Linked DNA regions of Homo sapiens. The protein of the gene in region 1 interacts with the protein of each later gene in a pairwise test. Each region holds a gene or a part of one and is shown in the gene's direction. Other genes may lie near its edges. The genes, in order: FKBP7, HHATL, WFDC2 and TXNDC12.

Region 1 (7,469 bases):
GCCAGGTTGGTCTCAAACTCCTGACCTCAAGCTATCTGCCTATCTCAGCCTCCCAATGTGCTGAGATTACAGGCATGAGCCACCGTGCCTGAACAACACTATCATTACACTTAAAGATCACTTAGTATGAACAGCTGCTCATTCTTATGACCTAAGATGAACTAAAATTAATAATCAGCACACCATCTACCCAAATTTAACTTTTAAAAATAAATTCTTCCAAACAAAAGATTTCTTTTCAACCAGCTTCTACAATGCATACTAGAAGTTGACTAAATGCCCTGCAAAGACTAAAATCTAAATCACATGTGATTAAAAGCTCAACCCCTGGTTATTTAGTACCATAGGAGATAAGGAAATCGCCACCAAGCCCAGGTTTCATCTCAACTCTTAAATTATGACTCATCTCAGTAATGGCCCAATGGTTCCACAACACCATGCTTAGGAACACTTGCAATGAGATGAGCATTTGCATCTCAAAGCATACAAGCTAATGTCTTTTTTTTTTTTTTTTTTTGAGACAGGATCTCGCTCTGTTAGCCAGGCTGAAGTGTGTGGGTACAATCATAGCTCACTGATCCTAGCTCACTGCAGCCTCCATTTCTCTAGCTAAAGCAATCCTTTCGCCTCCGCCTCCTCAGTAACTGGGACTACAGGTGTGCACTACCACACCTAGCTGTTTTTTGTTTTTGTTTTTGTTTTTTTAGTAGAGACCACGTCTCCCTATGTGGCCCAGGTTGGTCTTGAGCAAGCAATCCTCCCACCTCCGCCTCCCAAAGTGCTGGGATTACAAGCATGAAGCACTCTACTGTCTTTAACAGTTAACACTATACCTCAACCAAACAGTATAACTGCTCTCACAATGGCCAAAATGAAAATGCCCAATAAAAAATATTTATCTAACTTTTAAATGTTTCCCGTTAAAACATGTCACTTATAGAAATAAATTGAGTTTTTAGTTTGAACAAAATAAAACATCTGTGTATCATAAATGTTAAAAGCATTTGCTGCTACAAATCTGGCTTTAGCATTCTAATAAATCAAAAAGCAGGTATAACTGTAGCTCAGTGCTTATGCCTTAAAAAGTTTACCTGCACATTTTGCACAAGATCAGGTGGACACAAGTCGAGAGTACCACACAATTACTGAGGGATGTGATACTTTTGGCAGAGCGAAGAAGTGGGCAGCAAGTCATGATTTGCCTATTATGCTAGACCCCCCCCCCCCAAAAAATCTGTTTACTGTTCAAATTTATGTTAAAACCATCTTCTCACTTAGTGAGGTCATGGAATTCTGGAGTTGGAAGGCATCCCGGGGCAAAATAACTAATCACCCTGGCCTTATCAGACTGAGGTCCTGAAAGAATAACTGACTTGCCTTCATTGTTGGTTGATGGCAGAGATTGGACTACAACTCAAATTTAAGGAGCTTTTAAATAAGCCTACAGGCTGCCAATGTCATGGTAAGGGGCCCTTTCCTGCTGGTCTCTCATTTCTTCAAAGTTTTTCCTTCCAACCCACTTCACAGGTGAAAGTGACTTGCCTGTTCCCCTTCTGTGTATTGACACTTTCTTCCACTATTTCTCAGTTAACAGAATTCCCCAACGTAAGGATACTTCAATGACAATCCCTAAGAGAATATTATCTGGGGACAGCTTCCAAAATCATGCTCGCTAAGCTTGAACAACCTCAACAAGACAACGTTTTAAATAAAATGTTAAGGAAATTAAAAGAAATACAAAAAAGAATTAAAATTAAATCTTGTAGTTGAAACAATTAAAGGGTCCATTCCAGTCCAATACTCCGACAACTCAGTTATTAACAAAATGCTCTTAAAGTATGAATACTAAGTGTGAATAAGGACGGAGATCGCAACAACACATGTAGGGTGACTGAGAATTGTTCCTGAGGCTACAGGAGGCAAGGATTAGTATTATTACACTAGCAAAGAAGTGGCAGGTGCACTTCCCACCCTCTAGAAGGTGCGCAGCCTCAAACCCTCCCCTGAAGAGGCCAGAAGGACTCAACAAGCCCTGGAATCGAGTAGAGCGAATTCGCTCTGAGGGTCCGCGGAGGCCAGACGGAGGAAGAGGAGCCCCGACCCGCCTTCTCAGCAGCCCCCCGCCTCTCCCCTCTTCCCTCATCACACGAGCCCCCATACCTGTGAGATAGTTGGTCCACTTGTACAACACCCCCTCCATGCTTCAGAGCCCCACACCGCGCATCCTCCCGGCCCGGCGCCGGCCGCGGTGATGGGGTAGGCGCAGGGCCTGGGGCAGCCCCTCCCGGCCCGCCCGGGCCCCCTCCGCCGGCACGAAGCCGCTTTCTGCCTGCGCGCGCCGCAGGGACGTGGCGGCCTTTAGAGGCCGGGACAGCGGGCGCAGCGTGGAGCTTGGGGGCCGCGAGGCGCGGGCCCAGACATTCCCGGGTAAGCCTCGGCGGCGGCGGCCGCGACAACGGCAAAAATGCGCCCGCGACCGGCCTCCTGCTCGCGCTTCCGCAGCCCGGCTGCTCCCTCCGGCGCCCCGGCGCTGCCTCTTCCTCGCCTGCCTTCCTTCCCCCTGGGCTCCCCGTTTGTTTTCATTGACCCCGACGTCGATTTCACTTCCTGGATGAAAGGGGCCGGATCGTCCCGGGAAACCCCTCCCCGGCGGCGGGGCTGAAGGAGCGGGCGCGGCCTGCGGCCTCGCCGCCTAGCCGGAGGCTGCGCGAGGAGGGCGGGCCGGCGCGTCACACCCTCGGCCTGCCAGCCAGGGCCGCCTTTACTCCTCCCACGGGCCGGTGGCCAACAGTCCCGAGGCTCCCAAGTTTCCCCTTGGCCGCCAAGGCCCAGGCTGACCGCCCCCGGGGGACAAGACCTTCGAGCTCCGCTGCGCGCGCAGCCCCGGTGCCTACCTAAGGAGGAGCTGCCCGCACACTCATCCCGCGGGCACTTAGTTCTCTCGGGTTTTCCTGGGTTTTCTTCAGAAATACATAATATCCTGTTTCTTCATGAAATCCTGTTTTTATTTTACATAAAATCCTGTTTTTTCTTCAAAAATACATAAAAGCCTTCCTATTTCTGTTTGCTTCGTATTTTCCTCATATTCAAGGGGTCTGAAATTATCTCCTAGGAAGGCAATGTGCAGCAGACGGGGTCCTCTGACAAGGAATGGCGAGGGCCCCCAAGGAACTGTCATCACGCCGATAACCTTGGATAGCCACAATTTTATTTAGAATATAAAACATGGAACTCGACTTCGGAATTTTAGTCTAGAAATGGGGACTTCCCCCTAGCTTTTATGATTTTTGAAACTCCTGCTTGGACGCAATTGTCATCTTGCATAATCGACAGTAATTTTCAGGTTTATGGAATTTTGCAAACTTTAAGCAAAGCACATCAATCAGGCTCAGTGCTGCGGCTTTTCTTCGCATCACCGAGGTAGAATAGCACCTCTACTCCCAGAACTTAATCCAGGCGAATGCAGAAGGCCTTTGCTGGTTTTCTGGTTTGGGTAGTCTTTGGGTATTCACTTGGAAACAAGGCGAATTGATGGATGGATAGAGTGATGGATGGATATGTAATAAATATAATATAGTTCAATGACAGGATCCAGATGGTGGGTGTAGGAGAGTTTACTGTAGAATTCAACTTTCTGTGTATTTTAAAGGTTTTCATACTAAAATTGGTGGTGAAGTGGTGTTGTCACACAGATTTGACCAAATCCCTGCTGCGTATTAGCTGTGAGATTGGGACAACATGCCCAATACTCAAGTTTTCTTGACTGATGTGGACAATTACGTATCCCATGGGATGGTACAAAAAAGTCAAAAGAACATTCCCCGCACTACCAGAGGCCCTCGAATCAAGGGCGGCCCCGAGTGGCGGGGAAAAGAAATGCAAGCCAGCGGAGGATGCTGAATTGTGGAGGTCGGCTCTCGGAAACGCCTGCAGCCAGGCAGAGGAGTTGCGGTACCGCAGTTTCGTTGCATCGGGCTGGCCTTCAGGTTGTGCGACTCAGCCTGGAACCTCTGAATGCAAGATTCCGACCTGAGAATGCGCTTCAAGGACACCTCCGAAGCACCCAGAAAGCCACCGCCAGCCTATTTTTTACGCTCCTTTTCCAGCATGCCTCTCCCTCCCCCCAGTATCTATCTGCTCGTTCCCTAGGGGTCTTAGAAGCCTTTTGCTTCCAGAAATGACAACCATATTCCCTGACTCTACGACATCCCAGGCTGTTTATTTCGTCTTATGCCAGTTTCATTTTAGAAAATGCGAATGTTGTCACCGAACCCTGAGGAAACCTGCTGTAAAATACGCGGGTTTAGCGAGAAGAAGCGGAGCGAGTGTGCGTTGCGATCTTAAAGACTGAGGACAGCCAGCCCGAGGGCCTAGAAACAGCGTTAACCGCGCTGAGCCCGCTGCGGGAGGCGGAGGGGTTGGGGCCATGAGAGGGCGGGGCCGCATCTATGGCCCCGCCCCGGCCCTTTGTGACGCAGGACAACGCCTGCCACGCGTCGGAACTCGGCCGCGGGACATCCACGGGGCGCGAGTGACACGCGGGAGGGAGAGCAGTGTTCTGCTGGAGCCGATGCCAAAAACCATGCATTTCTTATTCAGATTCATTGTTTTCTTTTATCTGTGGGGCCTTTTTACTGCTCAGAGACAAAAGAAAGAGGAGAGCACCGAAGAAGTGAAAATAGAAGTTTTGCATCGTCCAGAAAACTGCTCTAAGACAAGCAAGAAGGGAGACCTACTAAATGCCCATTATGACGGCTACCTGGCTAAAGACGGCTCGAAATTCTACTGCAGGTAGGAAATGCTGCGAGCTGCCCGTGCGTCCAGTTGCACAAAATCTTGCCTGCCTCCACCAAGCGGAAGCCTCATTGGTTGGTTGGTTGGGGTTTTATTTTTTAACGGTAAAAGTTGAGCCCTTTATTCATTAAAAAAAATCACATTATATGGCAGTGTTTCTCTAATAAACTGAATATTTTTATTTAAAGTATTGAAAATGTTGTGGCAATAAATTATCAAAAATACGATACATCCACACACACATCAACCACCACCATTACCCTTGGGACCTCCAGAATTAAATCAAGGTTCTGCCTATAAGGATGTTCACATTTTTCCCTTGCCAGAAGTATTGAGTCTTTACGGAGGAATACATGGAATAAAGAGATTTAATTCTGGCCTTCAGAAGCACGATTTTTATAGGTTGTGGCCACTTTCTATCAAGAAAAACAGTTACTTCCCTGGTGACTTCTGGTGGGCCCTGCTCCCTCATTCCACCTGGTGCCTACTCTGATTTAATTGATGGCTTATTACTCAGAGGGAGAATCTTTTCTTTACCCTGTAAAGATAGGACTGGGAAAAACAGTTCCATCCATTTAGAATAAAATAGAGAAATTTAATAAGAATTTATACAATTTTATAATTTAATAAGAATTTAATAAATTATATCATTAGAATTTAATAAGAAAATATACCATTTTAAATTACTATTAAAATGACTTTTTGAGGCTAAAACTGCCCTATCATTTTTTTACAACAAACCCAGGGAGTTAAATGAGTTCTTTGTACAAGCCATGCACCTAGTTAGGGGCTGGAGACCCATTAAAAAGTTAACTGTTGAATAGTTTTTGTAAAGATAACAATTTTAAAAAATGAGATGGCTGTTAATGATTAACTTTGGGCAAATCATACTTCTTTCTGGTGATTATAGGGAAGTTTGAGTCAAACACCCCATTAAGGGTTTTAGAAAGAGTGATTATATGGGAATGATGGTTAGAGAGGACTCCAATTTTAAATGCCCAGCTGTATTTTCAAGTTTGATTTCTTGAAATCAGTTTACTTAAGTATTGCTTTTTGTTATAGCCGGACACAAAATGAAGGCCACCCCAAATGGTTTGTTCTTGGTGTTGGGCAAGTCATAAAAGGCCTAGACATTGCTATGACAGATATGTGCCCTGGAGAAAAGCGAAAAGTAGTTATACCCCCTTCATTTGCATACGGAAAGGAAGGCTATGGTAAGATGTTTAATTTTAATTTCTTGTTTTAGTTATATTTAAAAAATGATTAATAGATTTCTGGGTATATAGGTCTGAAAGAATTGAAAGCACAGTCTCAAAGAAATATTTGTACAGCCATGCTCATAGCAGCCATGTACAATAGACAAGAGATGGAAGCAAGCCACATGTCCATACATAGAGAAATGGATAAACAAAATGAATACATGCATATATGGAAGCCAGGCACAGTGGCTCATGCCTGTAATCCCAACACTTTGGGAGGCCAAGGTGGTAGAATCACTTGAGGCCAGGACCAGCCTGAGCAACAGCAAGACCCTGCTCTACAAAAAAAAAAAAAAAAAAAATGAAATGGAATATTATTCAGCCTTAAAAAGGAAGAAAATTCTGAGACATGCACCAACATGTATCAGCCTTGAGGACATTATGCTAAATGAAATAAACCAGTCACAAAAAGACAAATACTGTATAATTCCATTTATGTGAGGTACCTGGAGTAGTCAAATTAATAGAGACAAAGTAGAAGGGTGATTGCCAGAGGCTGAAGTGAGAGGGAAAAGGGGAATTGTTGACCAATGGGTATAGAGTTTCATTTTTGCCAGATGAAGAGTTCTGGAGATTGGTTGCATGGTAGTGTAAGCGTACTTTACTGAACAACACACTTGAAAATTGTTATGATGGTAAATTTTATGTTATGTGTATTTTACCACAATTAAAAACAAAAAAGTGAAATAAAAAATGATAGATGAAATAAAGAGAACAGTAAAGCCCAATGACCTTAAGCTCTATCTAGTTCAGTCCAGTCCCTTCTTTTTGCTTATAAGGATAATATGACATTGTTTGAATATAGATCTCTGGCCAGAGTTCTTTCTTCTACATTGTGGCAACACTCATGATGATTATATATATTCTATAAGCTCTACCTTAAGCATTTTTATTTGTTTTCAGCATATGTTATTATTACATAAATATTTATAACACAGATCTTTGGTAAGCAGTACCAAAGTTAAATTCATAAAACTCAGAAACTGGAACATGTAGGTTTAGAGTAAAAGGACAGGACGGGCACATTGTAAAAGGAACAGCTGAGATATAATGGGCTGTCAGTCATTATTACCCCAATACAGGACAAGCCTTCAAATGTGCAAGAAATGATCTTATTCTTTCAATATCTTGTCATTTTAAAAATCCTACAGCAAAAAGATCTGAAAACCTAGGTAAAGCAAATAAGCGGGAAAAATGTTTGTAACATGTATGAAGACTTGCTAACCAATAATGAAAATGACATATCCCTAGAAATGGGCCAAATTCATAAATAAGCACCCACTAACAAAAAACTACAAATGGCCTTTAAGTCTATGAGAATACTTAATTTTATTCATAAAGAGAAATTAAAAATGAGACATCATATTTCACTCATCAGATTAGCAAACACAAAACAACTTGGCAAAAGCATGGAAA
Region 2 (7,032 bases), on another chromosome or scaffold:
GCCCACAGGAAGGCCTTCCGGGAGTCTGTGCGACCTGGCTGGGAGTACATTGGCCGGAAGATGGTAGGTCCCCCACATCCCAGGGTCCCTCCCATCCCGAACCCTTCTCTGCTCTCTGCTGTTCCAGATGTTGGCAAGTAACAGAGAGCTTCTCACAGCTCTGGGGCCTCTGGCTTGAGCTTCAGTGCCTTCAGCTTCTTTACTGGCCCCTCCTGTATCCTCCTGGGACATCAAGTTTGCCCGGGCCCTGCTCACTTGGGAAATAGGTCGCATTAGTGGAGTGTGCTTCAGTGGAGCCTCCAGCACCTCCTTCCCAGAAACAAAGCAGTAAAGGGGGAATGGCAGGCAACGTGCGGAGGAGAGGGGGAGCTTCAAGCGACCCGGCAGCCCCCATGGTGCCCTTCACTCCTCTCTACCCTCCTGCCTCGGTACTTCCTTCACAGAGGAGTGTGGAGACCTGCAGGCACTGCTCTTGTGTTTGCATAAAGAGGACACGTTGGGTTTGGCTAGTGGTAAAAAATAATTATTATTATTAAATTTAAAAATGATAATAATAAAAGAAGAACATGAAGGCTGGGAAAGGTGCTGGGGCTCTGACCAGCCCAGGTTCCAGCTCGTCCTGTCCCCTCTCCCACCCTCACCTGCCCCACCTCCTTCTGCCCCGGACTGCCCCAGGATGTGGCTGACTTCGAGTGGGTGATGTGGTTCACCTCCTTTCGCAACGTCATCATCTTTGCCCTCTCCGGACATGTGCTGTTTGCTAAACTCTGCACGATGGTTGCCCCAAAGGTGAGCTGGACCTGGGCCACCCAGCCTCTCCCTGCCAGCTCCTCTTTCACCACAAGGGTTGTGGGAACCCCCTCCTGGGGTCACGCCCCCATTTATATGGCGAAACTGAAGCCTTCTCCCTGCCCACAGCTCCGCTCCTGGATGTATGCTGTGTACGGGGCCTTGGCTGTGATGGGCACAATGGGCCCTTGGTACCTGCTGCTGCTGCTTGGTCACTGTGTGGGCCTCTATGTGGCCTCGCTTTTGGGCCAGCCCTGGCTCTGTCTTGGCCTTGGCTTGGCCAGCCTGGCCTCCTTCAAGATGGACCCCCTAATCTCTTGGCAGGTGTGAACTGGTGCAGGGGTAGAGGGTGTAGGGATAAGATCCCAAACCTCTCACTTCATCCAAAGTCCTTGCACCCCAAGTATCCCCAAGTATTCCCTTCACTTTCCACCTGTCTTCAAGCCTTTGGGTATGTCCTGGCCACAAGGTGAGCACCTGCATCACAGGAGGAACTATCCAGATCATCCCCTGCTCCTCGCATTGCTGGGATAGAGCAGTGGCCAAAGTTAACTGGCTCTGGAAGAGAGGAAGGGACAGGACCAGGCTGGGCCCCTGTGGGAAGCTAGGGAGTGGGGAATAGGTTTTCCAGAGACAGGAGGCACCCTAGTGAGCTGGTGGCCTGTTCTTTCCCCCTCCAGAGCGGGTTTGTAACAGGCACTTTTGATCTTCAAGAGGTGCTGTTTCATGGGGGCAGCAGCTTCACAGTGCTGCGTTGCACCAGCTTTGCACTGGAGAGCTGTGCCCACCCTGACCGCCACTACTCCTTAGCTGACCTGCTCAAGTACAACTTCTACCTGCCCTTCTTCTTCTTCGGGCCCATCATGACCTTTGATCGCTTCCATGCTCAGGTGAGGGGACACCCTGTGGGCTTCTAGAACAGGGCTGAATCTCCCTTTTCAGATTGGGGTTTCCATCTCAGATAGAATTCCCCAAGCAGGCTGTATCCCCATCCTCAGGCATGATTCCAGGATGAAGCCGTGTCTCCCCTCCCTCCTCAGACCCCAGGATGGGGCCACCTTTCCCCTCCAGCAGGGACCCCAGGGTGGAGACATGTCTCTTTTCTCAGACAGGACTCCCAGGCCACGAATGTTCCCTTCCCACTCAAATGGGGCTCCCAGGACAGAACTGGGTCTCCCATGGCTGGCTGTGAATCCTCCTCAGACTCCAGGGTGACCTCTGTCTCCACCCTCAGGCAGGACTCCTGGATAAAGCCATGGCTCCTCCTGCCCCAAGTAGTTGGTGAGCCCCCCTCAGACAGGGCTCCCCAGGCAGGGCTTGCCTCTTCCCTCAGACCCTTCGCATCCCCCCAGGTGAGCCAGGTGGAGCCAGTGAGACGCGAGGGTGAGCTGTGGCACATCCGAGCCCAGGCAGGCCTAAGCGTGGTGGCCATCATGGCCGTCGACATCTTCTTTCACTTCTTCTACATCCTCACTATCCCCAGCGACCTCAAGTTCGCCAACCGCCTCCCAGACAGTGCCCTCGGTGGGTCCACAGAAGAGAAATGGGGGCAGGGCTGCCGCCCCAGGAAAACAGACCCTCTGCACCCCCACGGTGCCACAGTCAGGGGAGCTGAGGCACGCAGGGCACAGCACCTGAGGGCGTGGGAGCAGGGGCTTATTCTTTCTAATGCATGGGTCTTGGCATTAGCTTCATCCTGTGGGGCCAGAGCAGCATCCCACGGACCCCACCCACTTCACCAGGCATGACTGATTTCCACAATATGGGGGGGTCTCCGTGGGGCGGGCAGAGCCTGGTGTCTCCCCAAGGAAGTGGTGGGACAGGGTCTTCATGGGGGCAGGCCCCAGGCGATTGGACCCCAGGCAGTGACAGTGCCCTGCCCCCAGCTGGCCTAGCCTATTCAAACCTGGTGTATGACTGGGTGAAGGCGGCCGTCCTCTTTGGTGTTGTCAACACTGTGGCATGCCTCGACCACCTGGACCCACCCCAGCCTCCCAAGTGCATCACCGCACTCTACGTCTTTGCGGAAACGTGAGTGCTGGCCAGGACGGGGGAGGCTCACCCCCTGGGACCACACCTTCCCCTAGCCTCTTCCCCCATGCCTGGGGAGCTCTGCGCCTGATGGCAACATGCCCATCTGCTTTCCTCTTACAGGCACTTTGACCGTGGCATCAACGACTGGCTTTGCAAGTGAGTAGGAGTGGGGTGGGGGTGGTCACAGCCATCCTGCCAGGTGTCTGAGCAGGGCAGTGCCAAGATGGGTCCACATTTTAAAAGATCACCCCTGGGCCAGGGGAAGCAAAGAGGGCAGTGAGGAGGTATTGGCAGAGGTCTGGGTGAAAGATATAGAAGTTAGGATTTAAGTGAGGGCCCTCGAGGTGGAGAGAGGTGGTGGGAGGAGGGTCACACAGTCAGCAGCCTGAACAGGACGTGGCCATGAACTGTGGGTGTTGGGAAGGAGAAGGAGATGACGCTCAAATTGCTGTCTGCAGCCTGGGAGGATGGAGGGCAGTTTCCAGAGAGGGCTTCAGTTTAAGAAATGTATAGTCGCAATCTAGGAGACATCCCTGTGGAGGTTCAGGGAGGTGGTTGGGTCTGAGGGTCTGGGTTTCTGAGGGTCCAGAGGACTGATGGAACTCAGAGCGTCCTGAGTGTGGGCAGGTGGTTTTTAGGCTTTGGGAGTGGGTAAGTCCTCAGGAGAGGGAGTGGTGTGAGAAGAGGAGAGACGGGGATGGCCGAGATTCAGCCTGCAAGAGCTCTGCTTGGAAGGAAAAGGAGCCAGCAGAAAGGACTGGAAAGAGTAGTTGGAGGGGCAGGAGAAGAATCAAGGTCATGTGCCACCCTGGAAGCCAAGGGAAGACCATCCAGGCATGGTGGGGACAGCTTGGTCAGATGCCACTGAGCCTCAAGGAAGCTGGAGACCGAGGATTAGTGCTGGTGACATGGAGGTTTTCAGCCTTTCATGGGCAAGGCAGGAGCAGGTAAGGAGGGAAAGTCAACTGAGGAGTAGAGAAGTGTGTGATGACTCCTGGAAGAAGCCTGGGACTGCAGGGGGAAGACAGGAGTGGCTGAGGGAGAAGAGGGATGTGTTAAAGATAGGAGAGAATGGGACATGCTAAGAAGAATTATTCAACAGAGAAGCTGGGGATGCAGGATACAGGGGTGATTGATGGAGTGAGGTCCCTGAAGAGGAAGGAGGTGAGGGTGTCTAGTTCCAGGCGGAGGCCTGGCTTCAGTGGGAGGAGGAGGAAGAGAAGCCAGTGTGGATGCAGAGGAAAGCAGGTTAATGTAGACAAGTAAGGGATTCCACCTGAAGGCTTCAGCCTTGTCCATGAAGCAGGAGGCACGGCCATCAGCTGAGAAAGCCAGGACAGGGACGTGGAGAGAGGCAACATATATGCTTACCCCCACAACCCAGCCTGGATCCCCCCACTCATACTATCTCTCCACTCATACTTGTGGGGAGATAAGAATACAGTGGCCCTTGCAGAGCAAGGGAGAAGCAGCTGACTAGAGAAATCTTGGCACTGAGTACCCAGGTGGTATTGGAGGTGGTGGGCTTATGAACTCCAGCATGTGAAGATGTGAGATTTCCCCCATGGGGCTTAGCTGCCTGGGTGTAGCTGAGGAGAAAGTAAGTGATTGGGCTCTCCCAGATGGATGACAAGGAAGAAGTCAGGAATAAGGGTTTTTAGATTATTTATAGTCATGACTCATTGGATATAAGCCTGCTAAGGACGGTGGTGAAGGTGGGAGGGTCACAAGATCAATGGGATTGAAGAACTGAAGCTGGGGGGCCAGGAGGTCAAGAGGAGTTGGGCAAAGAATGGGAATTAGAAAGGAGTGAACTTTCAAGTGGTGACAAAGTTGGGGCATGGCCATGGGTGTGGGTGGCTGAGGTGGAGTGGAGAAAAAGCCATTGGAAATGAGGAGGTCGAGGAATGGAGAGGCTGGTTATTCCTGGGTCTTCCACAGAACTTATTTAACAAATATTTATTGAGCACCTATGTGCCAGGCATTGTTCTAGGCACTGGGGATACAGCAGTGAACATGGCAAAGACCCTGAACTCATGGAGCTTACAGTCTAGTGGGGAGAAACAGACCATAAACAGGTAAACAAACATAAATAAGATAATTTTAGAGAGTGGTAAGTGTTATGAAGAAAATAAAATTGCAATGGGATAGAAGTTGACAACAGGGTAGAAGCTTCTTTAGTCGGGGTCTAGGCAGGCTTCTCTGAGGAGATGATATTTGAATTGAGATTTGAGTGATAAGGAGATGTGGAGCAGAGAATACCAGGTAGAGGGAACAACAAGGGCAAAGGCCTTGAGACACAAACCAACTGTGTGGGTGTAAAGGTAAGAAAGGCCAGTGAGGCCAGCATGATGAACTGGGGGAGCATGGTGGCTGATTTGGTCAGGAAGGGAACAGAAACCAGACCACTTGGGATCTTCTAGCCAGAGTAAAGAGACTGAGTTTATTCCTATTGTAATGGGGAGCTATTCAGAGAGGTTAATCATGGAAGTGATGTGACCTGAGCTACACTCTTAAAAGATGCCTCTGGCTGCTGTGTGGAGAATGAACCATGGGGGCAAAAGCAGAAACAAGAAGACCACTTAAGAGGCTCTTGCAATAATTTATGTGAGAAGAGTGATCATCTTGACTAGGGTGGTGGTGGTAGAGGAGGTGAGTGGTGGTCAGGACTGAGAGGAGCCAACAGAATTTGCTGGCTTGCTTGGATGTGGGTGATGAGGCAAACTGAGAATCCAAGATGGCACCAAGGCTTATACCCTGAGCAACTGAATGGATGGTGGTGCCATTCACTGAGATGAGGACGGAGCTGGGTTTGAGCAGGGATAGGGGAATCTGTCAATCAAGTGACATGGCTAGTAGCAATTGCATATACAAATCAGGAGAGACTGGGCTAAAGACACAGATTTAGGGGTCATCGTCATAGAGCTAGTACTTGAAATCTTGGGTCTGGATGAGATCATTTGGGAAGTAAACGAACAGAGATAGAGAAGCTATAATGTCCCAGGCTGAGCCTGCCACAATTTGAAGTTGGTTGGAGGAGGAGCTGCTACGTGAGGTCAGGAATGTTGAATGCACCCAGGGTGACAGTGTTGAGGAGGACGCCCTGTTGTGTGTCCTCTCCCATCTCATCCCTGCCCTTTCCCACACTCCCAGTGGCCCTTCTCCCATCTTTCCTGCAGATATGTGTATAACCACATTGGTGGGGAGCATTCCGCTGTGATCCCAGAGCTGGCAGCCACAGTGGCCACATTTGCCATCACCACACTGTGGCTTGGGCCTTGTGACATTGTCTACCTGTGGTCATTCCTTAACTGCTTTGGCCTCAACTTTGAGCTCTGGATGCAAAAACTGGCAGAGTGGGGGCCCCTAGCACGAATTGAGGTGAGCAGGGAAGACCTGGGGCTGGGACTGGCTGGGTCATAGAGGGCGGGGGGGCACTGCTGCTTTCTGGAGTTGTCCAAACACCTGGCCCCTAATCCAGAACTTTCTCACCACCACCCTCTTAGTTGTCAGAGCAATGGCTCACTCTGTAGGAATCTGCCCCTCCCTCCCTTCTATGAGGAATGGAGCACCTGGGCCTTGCCATGTTGGTCAGGCCTTGTCCTCTCTCTGGACCTGTTTCCCCATGTTTAACAAGGAGGGAGAGCTGACCTGGGGCTCTCCGAGACCCAGACATAGCCCCAAGACCTGACTGGCCAGGTGGGTAAGGCTGCTGACCCACCATGTCCTCTTTCCTTTGGCCTCTTGTCCCGCTGCCCATGCTTTCCTGGACCGGATAGGCCTCTCTGTCAGTGCAGATGTCCCGTAGGGTCCGGGCCCTGTTTGGAGCCATGAACTTCTGGGCCATCATCATGTACAACCTTGTGAGCCTGAACAGCCTCAAATTCACAGAGCTGGTTGCCCGGCGCCTGCTACTCACAGGTGAGGGACAGGGGTGTGGGGATACAGAAGGTGCCAGGCATCAGCCTCAAGGACCGTGACCTTCCAAAATGCCTCCTATCTCCCTCATCACCCCTGGGACTCAGAAGGGAGGGCCCATCAAGCGGGGAGAGGGGTGGGAAGACAAAAGTCGCTGAGGATGCAGTGCTGCTCCTGAGCATCTATGACTCCCTCCCCACACAGGGTTCCCCCAGACCACGCTGTCCATCCTGTTTGTCACCTACTGTGGCGTCCAGCTGGTAAAGGAGCGTGAGCGAACCTTGGCACTGG
Region 3 (7,032 bases), on another chromosome or scaffold:
TGGGTCAAATGGTATTTCTTGTTCTAGATCCTTGAGGAATGGCCACACTCTCTTCCACAATGGTTGAACTAATTTACACTCCCACGAACAGTGTAAAAGCATTCCTATTTCTCCACATCCTCTCCAGCATCTGTTGTTTCCTGACTTTTTAAGGATCTCCATTCTAACTGGTGTGAGATGTTATCTCATTGTGGTTTTGATTTGCATTTCTCTAATGACCAGTGATGATGAGCATTTTTCATGTTTGTTGGCTGCATAAATGTCTTCTTTTGAGAAGCATCTGTTCATATCCTTCGCCCACGTTCTAATGGGGTTTTTTTCTCGTAAATTTGTTTGAGTTCTTGTAGATTCTGTATATTAGCCCTTTGTCAGATGGATAGAGTGCAAAAATTTTCTCCCATTCTGTAGGCTGCCTGTTCACTCTGATGATAGTTTCTTTTGCTGTGCAGAAGCTCTGTAGTTTAATTGGATCCCATTTGTCAATTTTGGCTTTTGTTGCCATTGCTTTTGGTGTTTTAGTCATGAAGTCTTTGCCCATGCCTATGTCCTGAATGGTATTGCCTAGGTTTTCTTCTAGGGTTTTTATGGTTTTAGGTCTTACATTTAAGTCTTTAATCCATCTTGAGTTAATTTTTGCATAAGGTGTAAGGAAAGGGGTCCAGTTTCAGTTTTCTGCATATGGCTAGCCAGTTTTCCCAACACCATTTATTAAATAGGGAATCCTTTCCCCATTGCTTGTTTTTGCCATGTTTGTCAAAGATCAGGTGGCTGTAGATGTGTAGTGTTATTTCTGAGGCCTCTGTTCTGTTCTGTTGGTCTATATATCTGTTTTGGTACCAGTACCATGCTGTTTTGGTTACTGTAGCCTTGTAGTATAGCTTGAAGTCAGTTAGCGTGATGCTTCCAGCTTTGTTCTTTTTGCTTAGGATTGTCTTGGCTATGTGGGCTTTTATTTGGTTCCATATGAAATTTAAAGTCGTTTTTTCTAATTCTGTGAAGAAAGTCAGTGATAGCTTGATGGGGATAGCATTGAATCTATAAATTACTTTGGGCAGTATAGCCATTTTCACGATATTGATTCTTCTTATCCATGAGCATGGATTGTTTTTCCATTTGTTTGTATCCTCTCTTATTTCGTTGAGCAGTGGTTTGTAGTTCTCCTTGAAGAGGTCCTTCACCTCCCTTGTAAGTTGTATTCCTAGGTATTTTATTCTCTTTGTAGCAATTGTGAATGGGAATTCACTCATGATTTGGCTCTCTGTCTATTATTGGTGTATAGGAATACTTGTGATTTTTGTACATTGATTTGTATCCTGAGACTTTACTGCAGTTTCTTATCAGCTTAAGGAGATTTTGGGCTGAGATAATGGGGTTTTCTAAATATACAATCATTTCATCTGCAAACAGGGACAATTTGACTTCCTCTTTTCCTAATTGAATACCCTTTATTTCTTTCTCTTGACTGATTGCCCTGGCCAGAATTTCTAATGCTATGTTGAATAGGGGTGGTGAGAGAGAGCATGCTTGTCTTGTGCCGGTTTTCAAAGGGAATGCTTCCAGCTTTTGCCCATTCAGTATGATATTGGCTGTGGGTTTGTCATAAATAGCTCTTGTTACTTTGAGATACCTTCCATCAATACCTAGTTTATTGAGTGTTTTAGCATGAAGGGTGTTGAATTTTATCAAAGGCCTTTTCTGCATCTATTGAGATAATCATGTGGTTTTTGTCATTGATTTTGCTTATGTGATGGATTACGTTTATTGATTTGTGTATGTTGAACCAGCCTTGCATCCCAGGGACAAAGCCAACTTGATCATGGTGGATAAGCTTTTTGATGTGCTGCTGGATTTGGTTTGCCAGCATTTTATTAAGGATTTTCGCACTGATGTTCATCAGGGATATTAACCTGAAATTTTTTTGTTATTGTGTCTCTGCCAGGTTTTAGTATCAGGATGATGCTGGCCTCATAAAATGAATTAGGGAGGAGGCTCTCTTTTTCTATTGTTTGGAATAGTTTCAGAAGGAATGGTACCAGCAACTCCTCTTTGTACCTCTGGTGGAATTCGGCTGTGAATCTGTCTGGTCCCAGACTTTTTTTGGTTGGTAGGCTATTAATTACTGCCTCAATTTTGGAACTTGTTATTGGTCGATTCAGGGATTCGACTTCTTCCTGGTTTAGACTTGGGAGGGTGTATGTGTCCAGGAATTTATCCATTTCTTCTAGGTTTTCTAGTTTATTTGCGTAGAGGTGTTTATAGTATTCTCTGATGGTAGATTGTATTTCTGTGGGATCAGTGGTGATATCCCCTTTGTCATTTTTTATTGTGTCTATTTGATTCTTCTCTCTTTTCTTTATTAGTATGGCTAGCAGTCAGACTATTTTGTTGATGTTTTTCAAAAACCCAGCTTGTGAATTCATTGATTTTTTTTGAAGGGTTTTTCATGTCTCTATCTCCTTTAGTTCTCTCTGATCTTAGTTATTTCTTGTCTTCTGCTAGCTTTTGAATTTGTTTGTTCTTGCTTTTCTAGTTCTTTTAATTGTGATGTTAGGGTGTCAATTTTGGATCTTTCCTGCTTTCCCTTGTGGGCATTTAGTGCTATAAATTTCCTTCTAAGCACTGCTTTAGCTGTGTCTCAGAGATTCTGGTATGTTATGTCTTTGTTCTCATTGGTTTCAAAGAACTTATTTATTTCTGCCTTGATTTTGTTATTTACCTAGTAGTCATTCAGGAGCAGGTTGTTCAGTTTCCATGTAAGGTTATGCGGTCTTGAGTGAGTTTCTTAATCCTGAATTCTAATTTGATGGCACTGTGGTCTGAGAGACTGTTAGGATTTCCGTTCTTTTGCATTTGCTAATTAGTGTTTTACTTCCAATTATGTGGTCAGTTTTAGAATAAGTGTGATGTGGTGCTGAGGAGAATGTATATTCTGTTGATTTGGGGTGGAGAGTTCTGTAGATGTCTATTAGGTCTGCTTGGTCCAGAGCTGAGTTCAAGTCTTGGATATCTTTGTTAATTTTCCGTCTCATTGATCTGTCTAATATTGACAGTGGGGGTTAAAGTTTCCCACTATTATTATGTCGGAGTCTAAGTCTCTTTGTAGGTCTCTAAGAACTTGCTTTATGAATCAGGGTGCTCCTGTATTAGGTGCATATATATTTAGCATAATTAGCTCTTCTTGTTGCATTGATCCCTTTACCATTGTGTAATGCCCTTCTTTGTCTCTTTTGATCTTTGTTGGTTTAAAGTCTGTTTTATCAGAGAATAGAATTGCAACCCCTGATTTTTTTTTGCTTTCCATTTGCTTGGTAAATATTCCTCTATCCCTTTATTTTGAGCCTATGTGTCTTTGCACTTGAGATGGGTCTCCTGAATACAGCACACCAATGGGTCTTGACTCTTTATCCAATTTGCCAGTCTTTGTCTTTTAACTGGGGCATTTAGCCTGTTTACATTTAAGGTTAATATTGTTATGTGTGAGTTTGATCCTGTCATTATGATGCTAGCTGGTTATTTTGTCTATTAGTTGATGCAGTTTCTTCATAGTGTCGATGGTCTTTACAATTTGGTATGTTTTTGCAGTTGCTGATTCCAGTTGTTCCTTTCTATGTTTAGTGCTCCTTTCAGGAGACCTTGTAAGGCAGGCCTGTTGATGAGAAAAATCCCTCAGCATTTGTTTGTCTATAAAGGATTTTATTTCTCCTTCATGTATGAAGCTTACTTTGGCTGGATATGAAATTCTGGGTTGAAAATTCTTTAAGAATATTGAATATTGGCCCCCACTGTCTTCTGGTTTGCAGGGTTTCTGCAGAGAGATCTGCAGTTAGTCTGAAGGGCCTCCCATAGTGGGTAACCCAACCTTTCTCTCTGGGTGCCCTTAACATTTTTTTCTTCATTTCAACCTTGGTGAATCTGATGATTATGTGTCTTGGGGTTATTCTTCTCAAGGAGTATCTTTGAGGTGTTCTCTGTATTTCCTGAATTTGAATGTTGGCCTTTCTTGCTAGGTTGGGGAAGTTCTCCTGTATAATATCCTGAACAGTGTTTTCCAACTTGGTTCCATTCTCCCCATCACTTTCAGGTACATCAATCAAACATAGGTTTGGTCTTTTCACATAGTCCCATATTTTTTGGAGGCTTTGTTCATTCATTCCTTTTCATTATTTTTTCTCTAATCTCATCTTCATTCTTTATTTCATTAAATTGATCTTCAATCTCTGATATCCTTCTTCTGCTTGATCAATTCGGCTATTGATACTTGTATAGGCTTCATGACGTTCTCGTGCTGTGTTTTTCAGCTCCATCAGGTCATTTATGTTCTTCTCTAAACTGGTTAATCTAGTTAGCAATTCCTATAACCTTTTTTCAAGGTTCTTACCTTTCTTGCATTGGGGTTAGAACATGCTCCTTTAGCTTGGAGGAGTTTGTTATTACCCACCTTCTGAAGCCTACTTCTGTCAATTTGTCAAACTCATTCTCCGTCCAGTTTTGTTCCCTTGCTGGCGAGGAATTGTGATCCTTTGGAGAAGAGGTGTTCTGGTTTTTGGAATTTTCAGCCTTTTTGTGCTGGTTTCTCCCCATCTTCGTGGATTTATCTACCTTTGGTCTTTGATGTTGATGATCTTTGGATGGGCCTTCTGAGTGGACGTCCTTTTTGTTGATGTTGATGCTATTCCTTTCTGTTAGTTTTCCTTCTAACAATCAGGCCCCTCAGCTGCAGGTCTGTTGGCGTTTGCTGGAGGTCCACTCCAGACCCTGTTTGCCTGGCTATCACCAGCAGAGGCTGCAGAACAGCAAAGATTGCTGCCTGTTCCTTCCTCTAGAAGCTTTGTCCCAGAGGGGCACCCGCCAGATGCCAGCCAGAGCTCTCCTGTATGAGGTGTCTGTCAGCCCCTGCTGGAAGGTGTCTCCCAGTCAGGAGACACGGAAATCAGGGACTCACTTGAGGAGGCAGTCTGACCCTTAGCAGAGCTCAAATGCTGTGCTGGGAGATCTGCTGCTCTCTTCAGAACCGGCAGGCAGGCTGAAGCCACATCCACAGCTGCCCCTTCCCCCAGGTGCTCTGTCCCAGGGAGATGGGAGTTTTACCTATAAGCCCCTGACTAGGGCTGCTGCCTTTTTTTCAGAGATGCCCTGCCCAGAGAGGAGGAATCTAGAGAGGCAGTCTGGCTACAGCGGCTTTGCCGAGCTGTGTTGGGCTCTGCCCAGTTTGAACTTCCTGGTGGCTTTGTTTACTCTGTGAGGGGAAAACTGCCTACTCAAGCCTCAGTAATGGTGGACGCCCCTCCCCCTACCAAGCTTGAGAGTTCCAGGTCAACTTCAGACTGCTGTGCTGGCAGTGAGAATTTCAAGCCAGTGGATGTTAGCTTGCTGGGCTCCATGGGGGTGGGATCCGCTGAGCTAGACCACTTGTCTCCCTAGCTTCAGCCCCCTTTCCAGGGGCGTGAATGGTTCTGTCTCACTGGCATTCCAGGCACCACTGGGGTATGAAAAAAAAATCCTGCAGCTAGCTCAGTGTCTGCCCAAATGGCCACCTAGTTTTGTGCTTGAAACCCAGGGCCCTGGTGGTGTAGGCACCCAAAGGAATCTCTTGGTCTGTGGGTTGTGAAGACCGTGGGAAAAGTGTAGTATCTGCTCCAGAGTGCACTATTCCTCACGGCACAGTCCCTCATGGCTTCCCTTGGCTAGGGGAGGGAGTTCCCTGACCTCTTGTGCTTCCCAGGTGAGATGATGCCCTACCCTACTTCTGCTCGCCCTCCGTGGGCTGCACCCACTGTCTAACCAGTCCCAATGAGATGAGCCACGTACCTCATTTGAAAATGCAGAAATCACCTGCCTTCTGCATTGATTCACTGGGAGCTGCAGACTGGAGCTGTTACTATTCGGCCATCTTGAAAGCTGAACCTAAATCTTTTTTTTTTTTGAGATGGAGTCTCGCTCTGTCGCCCAGGCTGGAGTGCAGTGGCATGATCTCAGCTCACTACAACCTCTGTCTCCCAGGTGCAAGCGATTCTCCTGCCTCAGCCTCCCAAGTAGCTGGGATTACCGGTGCATGCCACCACGCCCAGTTAACTTTTTTGTATTTTTAGTAGAGCGGGGGGTCTCGAGTCCTGACCTCCGATGATCCCACCCGCCTGAGCCTCCCAAAGTGTGGGATTACAGGCATGAGCCACTGCACCCGGTGATCTGTCAGCCACTTTCCTTGTCCTCTACAGCTAATCACCCAGTTCTGTGCCTGTGTTTTACACACAAAAACCTGCACATATTTATAGCAGCTTTATTTATAATTGCCAAAAGTTGGAAGCAACCATGATGTACCTCAGTTGATGAATGGATTTGGCTGGGCCTGGCTCCCCTCTATCTAACCTGGGAAGTGGAGTGTGATTGTGTGTGTGTTTGTTAGTGGAAGGACGTGTGGTTTCTCTCTGCATGGATGAATGAGTGTATTTGGAGGGTCATGGTGCTGAGAGACTGCAACTGGGATTCGGTCTGTGGGTATGAGTGAAGATTATAAGTGTGTAACCCCTCACATGTGTACTGTACTTTACACTTTAAGTGGCAGCATAGTGCTTAACCATGGCAGCAGCAGTTAACACATAGACTCTGCAGCTAGATTTCTTGGGGTTCAAATTCTGCCTCAATTCTGTGTGACCTTAGGCAAATTACTTAACTTCTCAGTGCCTCAGTTTCCTCACTTGTAACACAAGGAAATATTAACAGATCCCTCCCCTTCTTTTAGGATTATTGTGAGAATTAGAAGAGTTAATATATGTTAGGGGCTTGATACCTGGCATGTAATAAGAGCTAATTAAGTGTTCACTGTTATAATTTCTCATAACTACAGAGTAGTTTGATATTTCAGGGAGAAATAATATATGTTTGTTTCCCACTGCTTTCACAACAACCCTATGTTGTAATTAGCACTGTTCCACTGGCACCTAAAGACACGGAGGCTCTGGGAGATTTCTGGCCCTAGGCCACGAAGGCCCACTTGGGACTCAAGCTGAGGTCCTGTGATTCCATTTGGGAGCA
Region 4 (4,593 bases), on another chromosome or scaffold:
CCAGCATGGGCAACACGGTGAAAGCCCGTCTCTACAAAAAGTACAAAAATTAGCCGGGTGTGGTGGCACGCACCTGTAGTCTCAGCTATTTAGGAGGCTGAGGCGGGAGGATCAATTGAGCCTGGGAGGTCAAGGCTGCAGTGAGCCATAATCACGCCACTGCCCTTGAGCCTGAATGACAGAAGGAAACTGAATGACCCTGTCTCAAAAAAAAAAAAAAGAGTTTGATCATTTATTCACTTCAATAGCCATTTGCGCATCAGCCATATGTCAAGCACTGTATTAGACACTACAGAGACAGATATAAGCCAGAATTCTCACCCTTGAACCTATAGTGCACCTAAGGCAATGGAATAATATAACCAGATAAATGTCTTTCCACAAATAATTTTATAAGAGATATTTAATGACCACCTAATCTTTGTTCAGCATAAATTCTGCTAGGTTTTATGGGGGATAGAAGTCAAAATCATCAAGCAGAAAAGGAAGCAGAAATGTAGGAGGTATTATGGTGAGGTAATGGGCTGCAAATATGGGCAGATCTTATTTCCCAGAGGGCCCGATGTACCAGGTAGTGTTTGAAGTACCTGTCTGTTGTAATTACTGCAAAACTCTGTGTCATTTTGTCTATAACAGATCCCAGTGGCAAGGTGCATCCTGAAATCATCAATGAGAATGGAAACCCCAGCTACAAGTATTTTTATGTCAGTGCCGAGCAAGGTATAGTTATGCTGAAGGGAGGGAGGATTATTGCTAGATTGAACTAGGATGAACCACATGCAAGGTCTGTGATAGGAAAGTAAATTCAGCATGTTAGCTGAGCATCTCCTGCATGTCTATAGCTTTTGGCCAGATCCTGTGTAGGATATAGGAGGAAGATGAGACTGAGCCCCTTCCCTTGGAAGAGCTGACTGACCCACAGGCAGCTGTGAAGAACTGAGGCACACAAGTGACTGAGGTAGTCACTTGCCCATAGTTTCATAGTTAAGTAGCAGAGCCAGAATTTGAGTCCAGAACTTAGTTTTTTTCCTACTGAGCTAATACTGTTTTTCCTATGAAAATTCAGTGGAAGAGGAATAGTGTTAGGTGAACAAGTCTAAGAGGTTTTATAGATATTAAACTTAAATAGGCCGAGCACAGTGGCTCATACCTGTAATCTCAGCACTTTGGGAGGCCGAGGCAGGCAGATCACTTGAGGTCAGGAGTTCAAGACCAGCCTGGCCAACATGGCAAAGCCCCATCTCTACTAAAAATACAAAAAATAGCTGAGCGGGCTGGGCGTGGTGGCTCACGCCTGTAATCCCAGCACTTTGGGAGGCCGAGGCGGGAGGATCATGAGGTCAGGAGATTGAGACCATCCTGGCTAACATGGTGAAACCCCGTCTCTACTAAAAATACAAAAAATTAGCTGGCGTGGTGGCAGGTGCCTGTAGTCCCAGCTACTCGGGAGGCTGAGGCAGGAGAATGGCGTGAACCCGAGAGGCAGAGGTTGCAGTGAGCCAAGATCGTGCGCCATTGCACTCTAGCCTGGGTGACAGAGCGAGACTCTGTCTCAAAAAAAAAAAAAAAAAAAAACCAAAAAAACCCCGAAACGTAAACGGACCTAGAAGGATAAAAATTTCATCTCTGGACAGATATGAGGAGGACATTTCAAGCTATGGAAGTGAAGTGGCGGGGGAATGTAGCCCAACATAGAGTTTGTAAGGCTTGCTAGAAGAAATAATGACTGGATTAAGCCTTAGAGAATAAGACCTTGTCAGTAGCAGAATGGGAAAAGCATGTTCCAGGAGAGAGAAGAGCACCAGCACAAACAAGTGAAGGAAGTTTGCAATCGTCAGCCAGTCATGCTTTTTTGTTCTCTAATCTTTGAGCACAGTCATTCTGGAGGCAGGGGTTGGAATTCATGCCATGTATTGTTGCTGCTTTCCTTCCTTTTCCCCTCATCTATGAAAGGGAGTTGTGTGCTAAGTTGCCATGTGTCCCTATTTGCCATGCTGCCAGGCTGTTGATCACTTTATGATTTGAGTCCTTGATACTCTTATTCTCAGACTAGGGACGGGGAGGAGATCTGTAGAAGCTATTACCTTCTTCCCCTGAGTAAGGAGAATGTCATGTTCCTTAACCAAATGCAGATCACTGGAGATTGGTATCAAAGGGAAATTTTCCACGTGGAGAAGGGCAGCTGGGCTTTAGGTCTCCAATTCTTGTATCTTGAGATTCACCTTCCCTTTAGAATTTCATCCAAGTTACCACTGCTGTCTCCACACTGACATAGTCCAGATGTGAACATGAGACCCTTCCCTGAATCCTCCATCTCTCAGCTGACATGAAACTGGAACATTCAAACCCAGCTTTACTAAAGGCATAGGCAAAACAAAACAGAAATAACAAACTGTATTATCTGCCTCTTATGAGCTTATGGTTTGGCTTTGCAAGATTCATAGACTCTGGCTCAACCCAGCTTCTGGCCTGCCATTATATAGGGGTGCTTTGTAGAACCACCATTCAGGAGCCTATACTGAAATAGCTGTCCCCCTTGAGTCTAAATCCATAAGCAGGATGCCCCAAGACAGACAAGAAGTTTCATCTCGAGTCTACTTAAGGCCCTCCTTCCAGGTTTCTCTCTCTCTTTTTTTTTTTTTTTTTTTTTGGCCTGAGAACTTGGCTTCATCCATGTATAGTTGATACTGGAAATGACGACCCCCTTCAGTAGAGACACCCCCGCCCCAGCACACACACCCCTCAGTGTAATCTGTAACCTCCACAGGAAGTAAAATAAGTGCAACATTCATCCAAAAGATACAATGGGGACGGTAGGAAGGTGTTTCCTCTTCCCTGGGGGTGAAGTGAACATCTACAGTCTAGGACAGGGGATCAGCTCTAATCCTAGAGGGTAAGCCAAAATAACTGCTAAGATTTTGGTATGACTTCGTAGTTGATAAAGCACTTTTATTATCCATTCTCCCATTTAACTTTTATAATACTGTGTGAAGTGAGTTACATTATTTCATTTTATAAATGAGGAAACAAATTCAAAGAGATAAATGACTTGCCAGGGCCAAAATCCAGAGCTAGATCTTGAGTCCAGATCTTGTACTCCTCTCATATTTCTTCTGAAACATTTAAAAGTGTACATTGGTTGTCAAATGTCAAACATTACTTACTTCATACTTTTTTCCTCCAATCTTTATTTCACAGTTGTTCAGGGGATGAAGGAAGCTCAGGAAAGGCTGACGGGTGATGCCTTCAGAAAGAAACATCTTGAAGATGAATTGTAACATGAATGTGCCCCTTCTTTCATCAGAGTTAGTGTTCTGGAAGGAAAGCAGCAGGGAAGGGAATATTGAGGAATCATCTAGAACAATTAAGCCGACCAGGAAACCTCATTCCTACCTACACTGGAAGGAGCGCTCTCACTGTGGAAGAGTTCTGCTAACAGAAGCTGGTCTGCATGTTTGTGGATCCAGCGGAGAGTGGCAGACTTTCTTCTCCTTTTCCCTCTCACCTAAATGTCAACTTGTCATTGAATGTAAAGAATGAAACCTTCTGACACAAAACTTGAGCCACTTGGATGTTTACTCCTCGCACTTAAGTATTTGAGTCTTTTCCCATTTCCTCCCACTTTACTCACCTTAGTGGTGAAAGGAGACTAGTAGCATCTTTTCTACAACGTTAAAATTGCAGAAGTAGCTTATCATTAAAAAACAACAACAACAACAATAACAATAAATCCTAAGTGTAAATCAGTTATTCTACCCCCTACCAAGGATATCAGCCTGTTTTTTCCCTTTTTTCTCCTGGGAATAATTGTGGGCTTCTTCCCAAATTTCTACAGCCTCTTTCCTCTTCTCATGCTTGAGCTTCCCTGTTTGCACGCATGCGTGTGCAGGACTGGCTGTGTGCTTGGACTCGGCTCCAGGTGGAAGCATGCTTTCCCTTGTTACTGTTGGAGAAACTCAAACCTTCAAGCCCTAGGTGTAGCCATTTTGTCAAGTCATCAACTGTATTTTTGTACTGGCATTAACAAAAAAAGAGATAAAATATTGTACCATTAAACTTTAATAAAACTTTAAAAGGAAATGTGCTGTGATGGCCTTTTTGTTATTGGAAAAGGAGGGAGGGATGGAGATCACTTCAGGAAGAAAACTAACCTAGAGGACCTAATCTAGGAGTCCTAACCTAGGACTCCTGCTCCTTCACCTCCCACATTCAAATGAGCACAATGGCTCCTCTCTTTTACTTTTTAAATACCTGAATTTCCTCTGTCCACACTATCACTGTTTTAGCACGGGGCAGGCTTTTTCTCTCTTCGACTATTTATTGCTATAGCCCCTTAACTTGCCTATTGGCTCTAATATTCCCTCCTCCTGCAATCGATCCATATCACTCCCCTGTTTAAAACCTTTCCTGGCTGGACACAGTGGCTCACGCCTGTACTCCCAGCACTTTGGGAGGCCAAGGTGGGCGAATCACCTGAGGTAGGGAGTTCGAGACCAGCCTGGCCAACATGGCGAAACCCCGGCTCTACTAAAAATACAAAATTAGGCCGGGCGCGGTGACTCACGCCTGTAATCCCGGCACTTTGGGAGGCCG

The links.
Region 2: the proteins of FKBP7 (region 1) and HHATL interact in binary tests that used the Homo sapiens proteins (3 or more experiments, as listed by UniProt).
Region 3: the proteins of FKBP7 (region 1) and WFDC2 interact in binary tests that used the Homo sapiens proteins (3 or more experiments, as listed by UniProt).
Region 4: the proteins of FKBP7 (region 1) and TXNDC12 interact in binary tests that used the Homo sapiens proteins (3 or more experiments, as listed by UniProt).

The regions. Positions count from the first base shown.
Region 1 is NC_000002.12:178,475,601-178,483,069, reverse strand, and holds the start of FKBP7 (peptidyl-prolyl cis-trans isomerase FKBP7 isoform a precursor), read left to right. Parts: upstream 1-4,469; 5' UTR 4,470-4,570; coding exon 4,571-4,791; intron 4,792-5,856; coding exon 5,857-6,008; intron 6,009-7,469. Other genes in the region: PLEKHA3 (pleckstrin homology domain-containing family A member 3), read right to left, coding at 2,161-2,200. UniProt on the Homo sapiens protein: PPIases accelerate the folding of proteins during protein synthesis.
Region 2 is NC_000003.12:42,692,789-42,699,820, reverse strand, and holds part of HHATL (protein-cysteine N-palmitoyltransferase HHAT-like protein), read left to right. Parts: coding exon 1-63; intron 64-675; coding exon 676-789; intron 790-918; coding exon 919-1,113; intron 1,114-1,469; coding exon 1,470-1,679; intron 1,680-2,141; coding exon 2,142-2,313; intron 2,314-2,675; coding exon 2,676-2,820; intron 2,821-2,943; coding exon 2,944-2,979; intron 2,980-5,976; coding exon of another isoform or gene 5,977-6,002; coding exon 6,003-6,204; intron 6,205-6,602; coding exon 6,603-6,744; intron 6,745-6,945; coding exon 6,946-7,032.
Region 3 is NC_000020.11:45,472,721-45,479,752, forward strand, and holds part of WFDC2 (WAP four-disulfide core domain protein 2 precursor), read left to right. Parts: intron 1-7,032.
Region 4 is NC_000001.11:52,019,618-52,024,210, reverse strand, and holds the end of TXNDC12 (thioredoxin domain-containing protein 12 precursor), read left to right. Parts: intron 1-636; coding exon 637-720; intron 721-3,198; coding exon 3,199-3,278; 3' UTR 3,279-4,080; downstream 4,081-4,593. UniProt on the Homo sapiens protein: Protein-disulfide reductase of the endoplasmic reticulum that promotes disulfide bond formation in client proteins through its thiol-disulfide oxidase activity.